Homo sapiens: one gene and its partner. The protein of the gene in region 1 interacts with the protein of each later gene in a biochemical or structural test. Each region holds a gene or a part of one and is shown in the gene's direction. Other genes may lie near its edges. The genes, in order: G6PD and PAK4.

Region 1 (3,286 bases):
CAGTTCAAAACCTAAGTGTCTGAGCTATCAGACCGGGCTGGAAAGGGCTGGACCCCTACACAGCCAAGCACCCCACGGTTTTATGATTCAGTGATAGCATCACCATGTCCTTCCTTGATTTAAGGGGACCTGGAAGACAAGGGGGATCAGGAAGTGAGTCTTGCAGCTTGTCACTAGGAAGCCTTGTTTGGGGTCCCCATGCCCTTGAACCAGGTGAACAGGGCGGGGAGCTAAGGCGAGCTCTGGCCTCTTCCGTCCCCAGGGACGTGATGCAGAACCACCTACTGCAGATGCTGTGTCTGGTGGCCATGGAGAAGCCCGCCTCCACCAACTCAGATGACGTCCGTGATGAGAAGGTAGGGGGTGCACCCCAGTCCCCAGGAGCATGCCCTGTCGCAGGCCCATCTGTGACGAGGCACTGAGCTGGGGTGTGCATGCAGAGCAGGTGTCCTCAACCCCGGAGAAGTCACCACCTCTGAGCACAGCGTGGCCTCCCGGAGGTGACCTGGACTGGCAGTCATGAAGCCCAAGTTGTCATGTCCCAGGCCTGACAGTCACTATGTGACCAGGGAAGGCCATTGCCTCTCTGGGCCTCAGCTTGTTCATCAGAATAGACTCGAGATGGACCAGGGTGGTCCTGGAGGGTCCTCAGGGAGGGGCCCTGAGCTGGGCCTCTGGCAGGGTGAGCAGAGCCAAGCAGGGGCCTCCTCCTGCCCTGAGGGCTGCACATCTGTGGCCACAGTCATCCCTGCACCCCAACTCAACACCCAAGGAGCCCATTCTCTCCCTTGGCTTTCTCTCAGGTCAAGGTGTTGAAATGCATCTCAGAGGTGCAGGCCAACAATGTGGTCCTGGGCCAGTACGTGGGGAACCCCGATGGAGAGGGCGAGGCCACCAAAGGGTACCTGGACGACCCCACGGTGCCCCGCGGGTCCACCACCGCCACTTTTGCAGCCGTCGTCCTCTATGTGGAGAATGAGAGGTGGGATGGTAGGTGATGCCTTCGAGGCCCAGCAAGGCAGAACTGGGCATGCCCTGTGTGCGGGCACTGGAGCTCCCACTGAGACACTCACGCACTGGTCCACACCCTGAGAGAGCTGGTGCTGAGGCTGCCCTTTCCGCCACGTAGGGGTGCCCTTCATCCTGCGCTGCGGCAAGGCCCTGAACGAGCGCAAGGCCGAGGTGAGGCTGCAGTTCCATGATGTGGCCGGCGACATCTTCCACCAGCAGTGCAAGCGCAACGAGCTGGTGATCCGCGTGCAGCCCAACGAGGCCGTGTACACCAAGATGATGACCAAGAAGCCGGGCATGTTCTTCAACCCCGAGGAGTCGGAGCTGGACCTGACCTACGGCAACAGATACAAGGTGCCCTACAGAGAAGGAGCAGTGTGGAGGGTGGGCGGCCTGGGCCCGGGGGACTCCACATGGTGGCAGGCAGTGGCATCAGCAAGACACTCTCTCCCTCACAGAACGTGAAGCTCCCTGACGCCTATGAGCGCCTCATCCTGGACGTCTTCTGCGGGAGCCAGATGCACTTCGTGCGCAGGTGAGGCCCAGCTGCCGGCCCCTGCATACCTGTGGGCTATGGGGTGGCCTTTGCCCTCCCTCCCTGTGTGCCACCGGCCTCCCAAGCCATACCATGTCCCCTCAGCGACGAGCTCCGTGAGGCCTGGCGTATTTTCACCCCACTGCTGCACCAGATTGAGCTGGAGAAGCCCAAGCCCATCCCCTATATTTATGGCAGGTGAGGAAAGGGTGGGGGCTGGGGACAGAGCCCAGCGGGCAGGGGCGGGGTGAGGGTGGAGCTACCTCATGCCTCTCCTCCACCCGTCACTCTCCAGCCGAGGCCCCACGGAGGCAGACGAGCTGATGAAGAGAGTGGGTTTCCAGTATGAGGGCACCTACAAGTGGGTGAACCCCCACAAGCTCTGAGCCCTGGGCACCCACCTCCACCCCCGCCACGGCCACCCTCCTTCCCGCCGCCCGACCCCGAGTCGGGAGGACTCCGGGACCATTGACCTCAGCTGCACATTCCTGGCCCCGGGCTCTGGCCACCCTGGCCCGCCCCTCGCTGCTGCTACTACCCGAGCCCAGCTACATTCCTCAGCTGCCAAGCACTCGAGACCATCCTGGCCCCTCCAGACCCTGCCTGAGCCCAGGAGCTGAGTCACCTCCTCCACTCACTCCAGCCCAACAGAAGGAAGGAGGAGGGCGCCCATTCGTCTGTCCCAGAGCTTATTGGCCACTGGGTCTCACTCCTGAGTGGGGCCAGGGTGGGAGGGAGGGACGAGGGGGAGGAAAGGGGCGAGCACCCACGTGAGAGAATCTGCCTGTGGCCTTGCCCGCCAGCCTCAGTGCCACTTGACATTCCTTGTCACCAGCAACATCTCGAGCCCCCTGGATGTCCCCTGTCCCACCAACTCTGCACTCCATGGCCACCCCGTGCCACCCGTAGGCAGCCTCTCTGCTATAAGAAAAGCAGACGCAGCAGCTGGGACCCCTCCCAACCTCAATGCCCTGCCATTAAATCCGCAAACAGCCCCTCCTGTCCCCTTGTCATTTGCTTCCCTGAGGACCCACTTCCTTGTCCCACTCCCCAAGTCACCCGGGTGCTTCCTCTGTGGCCACTGAGGAGCCTCCTCACTTCTGGTTCTGACCCCATGTCCAGCCATGACCATGTTTGGTGTCAGAGACACCTCCTGAGTCCTCCTCCGCTCCACGCATATTGTCATTGTGAGACCAGCTTGAGGTGCAAGGATGTGGGGTCACCTTCCGCTCTTACTGTCCATGTCCCTGCCCCACCCAAGATGACTTCCAGCAACACTGCCAGTCCACAGAAGTATTTAGGAAGGAGAGGGGATGGGTTTTGTGACTGATGTCAGAGGCCAAGGGAGAGGGGACAGTCCACAGTGATGCACAGCCAGGCCCAGCCACCCCTTCCAGGCAGAAGGGCCACACACTGGGCAGCTCTCAACATAGGCTGATTCTCCCAGTTCTGGAGGCCAGAGTCCAAGATCCAGCACTCCCGCCAGAGGCCCAAGGGGAGGGTCCTTCCTGCCCTCTCCAGCTCCTGGGGAACCAGGCATCTTGGGCTGGTGGTCACCTCACTCCACTCACTCTGCCTGTCTTCTCGTGGCCTCCCCATGGTGTGACTTCTATGTCCTAACTCAGCGACATCTGCAGACCTCCTATTTCCAAATAAGGCCACATCAGGAACTCCCAGGAGACATGTATTTGGGGGCCGCTGTTCAGCCCCTGCACTGCTCCCCACACAGCCCCTGGGTGT
Region 2 (3,808 bases), on another chromosome or scaffold:
CTGTCCTCACAGCACCCTCACCCACATCTCTGTCCCTGAGCCCCAGACCCAGGGTTCCTCGGGCCACTGACCCCCGACCCAGTGTCTTCCAGGCCCCTCGCACCCACTGAGGCCCGCCTGGGCTCCAGGGTACAGTGTCCTCCAGACCTGCCCCTCCTGGGTTCCCTGTGCCCCGCCCTGGCCTCCACTCCTGGGTGTCCCTCGGCACAGCCCACACAACCACCAAGAGTATGTTTCTGACGTTCAGGCCCACCCCCTCCCCGTCCCTCCTTAGAGACCCTGGCAGTGCCCCGTAGCACCCTGACGATAGGAAGCCCAGGTCCCTTTGCCGGGTGTGTGAGGCCCCTCTCGACCCCGTTGCCCATCACAGTGCCGGGCTGCACCATGGAGCTCCTCGCCTGGGTTCCTCATCCTCCCGCCGACACACGCCTCTTCTCTCATCCTTGCCCTTGTCCGGGTCTCAGCCCTGTGATTGAACGCTCTCTTCCCACCTGCCCCCCAGCACTAGCCCAGGACTGACCTGAGATGGGCGTGTGCCCAGGGGGGCGCGCCCCCAGAAGGGAGGCGTGGGCTTCAAGCTGGCTCTGAGGCCCACGTGGCTGTGGCAGTAGGGGAGGGCAGTCCAGGTGGCCCCAGTGAGCACAAGCTTAATGTGGAACTGCAGGGGGAGCCAGGGGGGTGGCGGTGGCTGGGTCTGGCACTGGCAGCCCTCCCGCCTCCCTCCACCACTGACCCAGCCCCTGCACAGGTGGTAATCATGAGGGACTACCAGCACGAGAATGTGGTGGAGATGTACAACAGCTACCTGGTGGGGGACGAGCTCTGGGTGGTCATGGAGTTCCTGGAAGGAGGCGCCCTCACCGACATCGTCACCCACACCAGGTATTTCTGGGGCCTCAGACCCCTCCTGTGACACGACCAAGTCCCCTCCAGACCACTAGGGGTGGGGCCACATCTCCAAACCAGCTGTGCTCCGGGCCCCTGGGATGGGGTCGTGTCTTCCATTCCTCCCACTCCAGAGTGGGGTCGAGTGGTCTCAGATTCCTCCCACTGCAAGGCAGGGCTGCGTCCCCCTCGGCACCCCGGGGTGCTGTCCAGCTGGCTGCTCACCCCCCACCCCACCCCGCAGGATGAACGAGGAGCAGATCGCGGCCGTGTGCCTTGCAGTGCTGCAGGCCCTGTCGGTGCTCCACGCCCAGGGCGTCATCCACCGGGACATCAAGAGCGACTCGATCCTGCTGACCCATGATGGCAGGGTGAGGGGACGGGCGGCGGGGTACGGGGGCGGCAGGTTTCCGGCTGCGGGGCTTCCCTGCCTCTTCCCATCCCCTGTGAGGGTAGGTGAGCTCTGACCCCCAGGTCTGTGTCTTGAGGAGCTGGGAACTTCGTCCCTCCCTGGTGGAGCAGCCCAGAGTCAGGTTCCAGCTCAGTGGGGACTCTGTGCAGTGGGAGGGCACAGGCTGGCGGGGGCTCTGCCATCAGCACAGGACACTGGGCCCAGGGGCAGGGATCTGGGCAGACAGCGCAGCCCCCGCCACAGGCTTCTTCCTCCACTGAAAAGCTGCTCCCTGCCCAGCACCCAGGGCGGTCCATGGACCCCAGTCCTGTCTTCCATGCTTTGGACTGAGGTTCCAAATCTGAGGCTGTGACAATTATAACGTCGGGTGGACATGATTTTCTGTGAGAGAGGGCCCTTGACTTGAATGAAATGCTTGCAGAAGTGGATGACTCCATCCCCTCCCCCAAGGAAGATTAAGCCACACCATTAGTCCAGGCAGAGGCAGAGAGAGCTCTGTGTCACTGACAGTCTGAAAATCTCCAGATGTCTATAGATGTGTTTTGGGGGCGATGTCTATGGGCCACCTGAGATTGTCCACACACGGTTGTGGGGATGTTTGCTGGAGGCAGGAAGACCCATAGAAATCCTCAAAAATCGGAAAGGGACCCACAGTTCCTAAGAAGGTGTGAGAGGCCTGGTTGTCGCAAAGGCAGGCTGTGTCCCCTCACGGCCCTAGTGCAGGGCTACTTTCTGCTCCAACCGAACTAAAGACTTGTTCCAGGGCAGCAGGGCCCCAGGGCACAGGCTTTTGGGGCCACCCCTGTTCCCAGCTCCGGCCCTGCCTTTGCTATCTGCAGTACTCAGGCCAGTGTCCCCAAAAGCCCCAGAGGCTGTCAGGGAGGGAAATGGGGGGATCGTGGGGGAGGTGACTTGCCCGAGGGCCCCCACCAGGAGGTGGTGGAGCTCCCCATTGGTCTGGCTCTAGACCCCAGCTCTGACCCTAGACCCCAGCTCTGACCTCTGGGCCGCACATTGTGTCTGAAGCCAAGGAATGACGCAGGCAGACGCCCCTGCTCGCCCTCCTGCTGTGCCAGCTCCTCTGACCCCACTGCCTCTGCCCTGTCCCAGGTGAAGCTGTCAGACTTTGGGTTCTGCGCCCAGGTGAGCAAGGAAGTGCCCCGAAGGAAGTCGCTGGTCGGCACGCCCTACTGGATGGCCCCAGAGCTCATCTCCCGCCTTCCCTACGGGCCAGAGGTGAGCCCCGGGGTGGCTTGGTTGTCCCGCCGTGGACAGCGTACGCTGCCATTTTCCAGCTGCAGCGCTGGCGGGAGATGGGGCCCAGTCTGGGGAGTCATTGCCAGGAATGGTGCTCTGGACAAGGAGGTACTGCAGGCATGCATGTATTCATTCTTCTTTTTTTTTTTTGAGATGGAGTCTCGCTCTGTTGCCCAGGCTGGAGTGCAGTGGTGCAATCTCAGCTCACTGCAACCTCCACCTCCCGGGTTCAAGCGATTCTCCTGCCTCAGCCTCCCGAGAAGCTGGTTTTACAGGCACCCGCCACCATGCCTGGCTAATTTTTGTATTAGTAGAGATGGGGGTTTCACCATGTTGGCCAGGTTGGTCTTGAACTCCTGACCTCAGGTGATCTATCCGCCTTGGCCTCCTAAAGTGCTGGGATTACAGATGTGAGCCACCGCGCCCAGCCTTGGCTCTGCCTTCTGAGCATTGTTTTCACAGGCCGGCTTTCCCCTTGTGGGAGCAGAGCTGGTCCCGGCAGCTCTGGGAAGTGTCTCCCACCTATGGGCTCCTCTTTTTCCCTGGGTGTTTTGGGTAAAGTCCCCAGGTTGGCTCTGATTGGCTCAGCCTGGGTCCTGTGCCTGTTTCTGAACCAATCACTGTGTCTCCACTGTGGTGATGAGGCCGCATGGGTCCTGAACCCACCAGTGGATGCTACCTGGGCTGAGGGAGGGAGGACACCTGGGGGCAGTTGACAGAAAGAAGAGGGGTGGGTGCTGGGGGGGCAGCTCTCTTGAGGGGCTCCCTGGAGGACTAGTGCTCTGTGGACTGCTGGCTGGGTGCCCAAGAGGGAGTTCTGGGCCAAGGACTCCAGGAGCCAGAGGCAGAGACAGCGCTGGAGCGGTCCCTGCCTGAGGCCTCCCCAGGACCCACCATCCCCCAACAGCTCAGCCCTGCTGTCCCTTCTCCCGCCCCAGGTAGACATCTGGTCGCTGGGGATAATGGTGATTGAGATGGTGGACGGAGAGCCCCCCTACTTCAACGAGCCACCCCTCAAAGCCATGAAGATGATTCGGGACAACCTGCCACCCCGACTGAAGAACCTGCACAAGGTAGGCCCCTCCCTGGCTGGGAAACTGTGCGCCAGCTGGCGGGTGGCAGGGCTCCAGGTGGAGCATGGGGTGTGGATGGGATGGGGACAATGATGGCGCCTGGGATGGCGCTTACTGTGTGCTGGGCCCCCCACCCCCGGGCCTCATGTGTCTGTGCAGACCCCCTCTGTGGGGCCTGGGC

Evidence for each region.
Region 2: the proteins of G6PD (region 1) and PAK4 form a complex in vitro, tested with the Homo sapiens proteins (one study listed by BioGRID).

Annotation. Positions count from the first base shown.
Region 1 is NC_000023.11:154,530,646-154,533,931, reverse strand, and holds the end of G6PD (glucose-6-phosphate 1-dehydrogenase), read left to right. Parts: intron 1-262; coding exon 263-356; intron 357-803; coding exon 804-990; intron 991-1,129; coding exon 1,130-1,365; intron 1,366-1,469; coding exon 1,470-1,546; intron 1,547-1,651; coding exon 1,652-1,744; intron 1,745-1,841; coding exon 1,842-1,932; 3' UTR 1,933-2,541; downstream 2,542-3,286. UniProt on the Homo sapiens protein: Catalyzes the rate-limiting step of the oxidative pentose-phosphate pathway, which represents a route for the dissimilation of carbohydrates besides glycolysis.
Region 2 is NC_000019.10:39,174,183-39,177,990, forward strand, and holds part of PAK4 (serine/threonine-protein kinase PAK 4), read left to right. Parts: intron 1-748; coding exon 749-882; intron 883-1,129; coding exon 1,130-1,256; intron 1,257-2,407; coding exon 2,408-2,533; intron 2,534-3,492; coding exon 3,493-3,627; intron 3,628-3,808. UniProt on the Homo sapiens protein: Serine/threonine-protein kinase that plays a role in a variety of different signaling pathways including cytoskeleton regulation, cell adhesion turnover, cell migration, growth, proliferation or cell survival.